Regions from separate parts of the Homo sapiens genome. Here region 2 is linked to region 1. A link means that fine-mapping ties the variant in region 1 to the plasma level of a protein whose gene starts in the linked region. Region 1 holds a variant in brackets. A gene starts in the other region. All regions are shown on their reverse strands. Region 1 overlaps PRUNE2 (prune homolog 2 with BCH domain). Region 2 holds the start of OPTC (opticin).

What was found. A credible set is the group of variants that fine-mapping cannot tell apart. PIP is the chance, under the fine-mapping model, that this variant and not a neighbour inherited with it causes the effect. Protein levels are from antibody-based Olink assays in UK Biobank. Linkage for the fine-mapping came from a reference panel and not from the study's own genotypes, which makes the PIPs less certain.
Region 2: it holds the start of OPTC, and the variant in region 1 is the best candidate, but not a certain one, in a credible set for the plasma level of the OPTC protein (UK Biobank, PIP 0.76).

What each region holds. Positions count from the first base shown.
Region 1 is chr9:76,660,985-76,663,900 of GRCh38, reverse strand. All of the region lies in intron 9 of PRUNE2 (prune homolog 2 with BCH domain), which reads left to right. It overlaps LOC105376095 (a long non-coding RNA gene), which reads right to left. Exons shown (of 12, transcript XR_007061586.1): 12 at 1-266. Among named protein-coding and RNA genes, the nearest start is that of PCA3, 100 kb to the left of the region's middle. The variant C/T (reference allele first, on the strand shown) is at 1,253.
Region 2 is chr1:203,492,858-203,495,773 of GRCh38, reverse strand. It overlaps OPTC (opticin), which reads right to left and starts at 1,621. Exons shown (of 8, transcript NM_014359.4): 1 at 1,557-1,621. RefSeq lists a silencer at 1,900-2,128.

The DNA of each region.
Region 1 (2,916 bases):
TGCCCCTCTCCAATGTGAGATTATGCCATCTAATTTAATCTTCTCCACAACAAACAAATCTATTCATAGATCTTAAGGTTATAGGAAAAATATTAAAAGAAGCTAGCAAATAGCCTGCAGGCAAGAGGTAGAATTCTCCATGCATCCATCATTCACAGCCAAGGAGTTAATTATTCTCTGAAAAGCAAAGAGGTTGAAATGATAAAAATGTAGGCTTTCCTTCTATTCCTGCTCAGCGTTCCTCAAATTTTCATGTTTAAGCCTCACTGTAAAAAGAAAAAAAAATTGACATGCAAAACCATGTACACTCTATTCAGGGAACAATTCAAGAAAATGTTTGAGGATCATTGAGCTACAAGTGATTTTTTTGCTCCCTGCAGAATTTTAGAATCTGACCCTGGGTAAGGAGGCTGCGTCGTGTCCCCCACCTCTGAGAACCTGAGAATGTTTAGCTGTGGTTTCTGCAGTTTTGCACATTCCCTAAAGAAGGTGTCTGGGCGAGTGCTCGGCGCTTATCTTCCTACTGTGTGCAGTCAGTTTCCAGCTCTCACCTCCCTCCTTCATCTCTCTTCAGCTGGCTGGCTTCTAAGATGCTTCTCCCTGCCTGGCCACAGTGCTTACCTGTTCTAGGATGAGAGAGGCCCAGCTGGGTTAGCGAACTGTTGCTAAAGAGCGTTATTTCATGGGCTTGACCCCAGCTTCCTATTGTAGCATTTCCTGTCTTGGGATTAGCTTGATTAGGCAAAGTGTGAAGCTCAGTGCTGCTTCAGTCTCACCTCCTACTTTGAGTAATTTGATAAGTACTCTGTGGTTCACAGGGTGCCATGTACTGCTGGCTTAAATGGAGCAGCCTACTTTATCAGACAAGAACCCTCAAATGGCAGTCCTCCAGCCCATAGGCTAATTGATATTCTTAACGAGGGAAGGCAAGCACCTCATGAAAGGTTTTGTTTGTGTTTTCTTTTTTCTTTTTATCTCTGTTTCTAGAGACAGCAACCTTATCAGTCCAGCAGATCTTAATAGACTAGAAAGAAGCCAGGAGAGTATTAAGGAACTCTTAACACAAGAGATATTTCTCTTTATGTAATCATTTTCCCAAAATATATCAGCATAACCGTCAGTATTTTTCTAAAGAACAATGGACCCCATGTCATGACCTGCTACTTTACTTTTTATGGAGGTATATATTTCAGTGGCCAATCTTGTAAAAGTGGTTATTCCTGAAAAGGGGTGCCACCTGCTGCTGGATATC[C/T]GTGTCTGTCAGGAAACATTACCATCTAGAAATGCTACTGGTATGTGTGTGCCAGCTCTTGGCTCACTGCTCATTTCCTGTTAAAAAGAACCTAATCTCAGGCAAAGCTAATCCTACAACAACAGTCAAATCCCTCCAGATTCAGATACGTTGAAAAAATACAAAATGCAGAATGGGCTTAATTTTGTACCTGTTCTAAAGGCAAGAAGGTGCATTTATGTCCAAAAGTTCTGCATTTGTTGTCCTTCATTCTCTGTCACATACTGCAATTAGCCTTCCATATGAAGAAATGTAAGTATCAGAAACACACAATCTACGAATATACGTGGGCTTCATTCTCAAATTGGAGACTTCCATTTCTATCACCGTTCTTTCTCCATTTGGTGGTATTCAGGATCATTAGAGAAGGTGCAAAGATTTAGCATAAATAGCATCAAGTCACCTAAGAGCATGTTTCTTTTTATAACTTCCTGGGCTGAGTTGAATGCTTAGCTAATTCAGTTCATCTTATTTCCTAAAATCTGAACTTAAGGCTATTTATTTTCCTCTAGGAACTTCTTTAGCTGCTTTCACAAGTTTGGATGTGCAGGGCTTTATTGTTTGGTTACTTACACGTGTGTTTTTTAGTCTCCAAACTGTGATTGGAGACTTTTTGTGATTGATAACTAGAGGTATGGCCCCGAAGTCAGAGAATATAGTACATGTGATGTTGACTTTTGGTATTTTATGAGACATCACGTATGGTAAGTTTTGGTGAGTTCAAAAAAAAAAAACTGTGTTTTTATTGACTGCAGATCTCTCCATTAGATCAAGCTATATTACTGCATTGTTCAGATCTGCCATATTCTTATATATTTCTTTTCAAATTAATTTATAAATTCTTGAGAGGTATACTCAGATTTTACCCCATGAAATTTATTTTGCCTTATAATGTATTTTCAATTTTTGTTTTACATATTTTGAGGCTATGTTGTTAAGAACACATTGGCTCTCAATTATTACATCTTCTGAAGAATTATTCCTTGTATCACTAAATAATAACTTTCTTTAGCCTTAATAATGCCTTTTCTGAAGTCTGTTTTGCTGGGCATTAATACTGTAATGCTGGCCAGGTGCAGTGGCTCATGCCTGTAATCCCAGCACTTTGGGAGGCTGAGGCAGGCAGATCACCTGAGGTCAGGAGTTTGAGACCAGGCTGGCCAACATGGTGAAACCCCATCTCTATTAAAAATACAAAACTTAGCTGGGCATGGTGGCAGGTGCCTGTAATCCTAGCTACTTGGGAGGCTGAGGCAGGAGAATCGCTTAAACCCAGGAGGTGGAGACTTCAGTGAGCCAAGATTGCACCACTGTACTCCAGCCTGGACGACTGTACCAAAAAATACTAACAATAATGATAAATAATAATAATATTGTAATGCTTTCTTGTGTTTAGTATTTCTCTGTTTTTTAAAAATACCACTTTCTTGTCAACACTTCTGCATTATTATGTTTTAGATGTTTCTTTTTTAAGCAGAATGGCTACTGAGGTCTTGGTGACATTACCTGCTATGACAACCCCAAATCTCAGTGGTTTAACACAACAAAGGTTTAGATATTATTCTTTAATCATTATGGCCTCTTTCATGCTATTCTTTTATTTTATTACTTTTATTGCTAATTTT
Region 2 (2,916 bases), not on the chromosome of region 1:
CCGCCCCACTTGAGTGTTTTTACACGCTCACCCAAACACTGATATTCACTCACAGAGGCATGTGCAGACACATCTCAACACAGACACATTCACAAGAGTCCCCTTGTTTACAAACGAGGCACACACTGGTGCATGCACACAGATGTCCTCTCTTAAACAACCCCATGCTCAGAACATGACTGCTAGTCACTAAGCTCGATTTAGAGAATGTCAACATCAAATAATCTTATGGGGTCTTTTTGTTTGTTTGTTTTTTTGAGACGAAGTTTCATTCTTGTTTCCCGGGCTGGAGTGCAGTGGTGCGATCTTGGCTCACTGCAACCTCCGCCTTCTGGGTTCAAGCGAATCTCCTGCCTCAGCCTCCTGAGTAGCTGGGATTACAGGCACCCACCATGCCTGGCTAATTTTTGTATTTTTAGTAGAGAAGGGGTTTCACCATATTGGCCAGGCTGGTGTCGAACTCCTGACCTTAGGTGATCCACCCACCCTGGCTTCCCAAAGTGCTGGAATTACAGGTGTGAGCCACCGCGCCCAGTTGACTCTTGTGGTTTTTTATAAAGATCATCCATTCATGCATTTGCTCAACAAACATTTATGGGTGTCTATTGAGTTCCAGGCACAGGACTTGTCTCTGTGGGTACAGAATGAATGAGGCACAGCCCTTCCTAGGAGCACCTAGTCTCTTTAGGAGACATGGACTTACAATGAAACATACAATGTAAAAAAGAATGTTAGTTTATGAAATATACTTCTAAATGCAGCTTTTTAGAAACAGATTATTACAGATAAAAGAGTTCTTTGTGTGTGATTGCATGAGTGTGTACGCATCTGGAAATTTCCTTAGATACCTGTGTATATTTGTGTGTGTGTGCACACAGATGCCTGCGTATGTATGTGATATGCATGTGAGTACAAATGTTCATGTAGTTCGTATATGTATAGACGGGTCAGGAAATGCATGTGGTGTGGTTTTGTATCCAGGCATAAGTGTATACAACAGTCATACCCAGTGTAGGCTTAACACAGCCCTCCCCAAAGCTAGCTGCACAAGTTTCTAGTAGACTCTCCCTCTTTCTTTCTTTTAAAATTTTTTTTATCTTTTAATTTTTATTTTATTTTCTATTTTTAAGACGGTGTCACTCTGTTGCCCAGCCTGGAGTGTTATGGCATGATCTCAGCTCACTGAAGCCTTAACCTCCTGGGCTCAGGCAGTCCTCCTGCCTCAGCCTCCCAAGTAGCTGGGACTACAGGCGTGTGTTACCATGCCCAGTTAACCTCCCCACCCTTTCTTAATTTTAGCTGGGCAAGGGGGCAAGCCTCTAGCAGTAGCAAGAGGTGTTTCTTCACCTTACCTCCCATACCTCACCCCAAACGAATTACATAATCTCAAAAAAAATTTTTCTAAGAGAGTTTAGTGCCCACCCAAAAGTCTTGTCCAACTTCTTTGGCCAGAGGCCTAAACTCTCTTCATTTTCCCTTCCCAATCCCCTGCCCCAGCCAAACACTTTGCCCTCATTTGCGCACCGATGGCCAGAGGCCTCAACCTTGAGCCTTACCCCTTCAATGCTTCTGGATCCTGGATGGAGAGCCCTGCAGCTTCCAGAAAGGTGGGGACTCTGGTGGAGGCTGTCTGAACTGGGGCTTGGGTTAGACAGTGGTGCCCGGGGGAGGGCAAGGAGTTGGCCAGGCCTGCGACCAATCAGACTTCTCATTCCTTCTGATGTCCAGCTGTTTCCCCTCCTCTTTCCTCAGGGGGTCCCCTGCCCCATTCCTGTATTTGACAAAAGAGAATTCTCCCCCCACCTTCCGCTTCACCCCCCACCTCCAGCTCCTGCTCTCTCTCCTCTTACTCTGTCAGCTCCTTCTTTCTTTTCCTTGTCCACTCTCCTGATAAGGCCACATCTTTGAGGAACAGGGAGTGCCATCCCCTGCAAGGAAGGGGCCCCATCCCTCAGATTCTGAGTCCTCAGAGAAGGCTGGAGTCGGGGGATATGGAGAGATAGAGCTTGTCTTTGCAGCTTCTTTCTCCAGCCAGAGAGTGACAAGGCTTCAGCTTCATAGCCAGAATCCAAAGATAAAAATAGGTGGAAATGAGGCACTTCACCCTCACCTAGAGCGCCAGCACAGAGACCATAATTGAATAAAATCACCAGAGACAGGAGCTGCAGGCCTAGGTAGTTCAAAGAGAAGGTGTATGGGGGATGAGATCGGATTTGAAAGCCAACTTCAAGTTCACAGATGATGATCATGAGGATACGGGAAATTCTCTAAATCTGCTAGGAGGAAACCAAATGGAAATTGGGAGGTGGGCCCTAGAAAGGATCATAAACACCAGTAGACATTGTGTAGGGTCTCGGGGGCCTGGGAAGTATCCTCTCCCGCACCCTCAGAGATGTACAGTCGTCCCTCAGTAACCATGGGGGATTGGTTCTGCACGTCCAGTGGATACCAAATCCACATATGCTGAGGTCTTTTATATAAAATGGTGAATTTGCACATAACCTACGCACATCCTCCTGTGTACTTCAAATCATCTCTAGATTACCTATAACACCAAACACAATGCTTACACCTCACTCCATTCACATGGATTCCACATAGTACTGGCACACAGCAAATTCAAGTTTTCCTTTTTGGAACGTTGTGAATTTTTTTTTTTTCTGAATATTTTCAATCTGTGGTTGGTTGAATCCACGGATGTGGAACCCACAGATACAGAGGGCCAACGGCATTCATCTGGAAACACTCCCCTTTCCTTGGTGCCTCGAGCAGGCTGCCGAGCAAGTCCTTGCTGAAGGCAGAGGTGGGGTGGCTAAGGAGTCTTCCCCAGCTTCTGCCAGCCTGTGCCCTGGCGCCCACCCAGGTTTCTCAGTGACTCTCCTTGTTCCCTACTCCTTTCCACCAACCAGATACTGA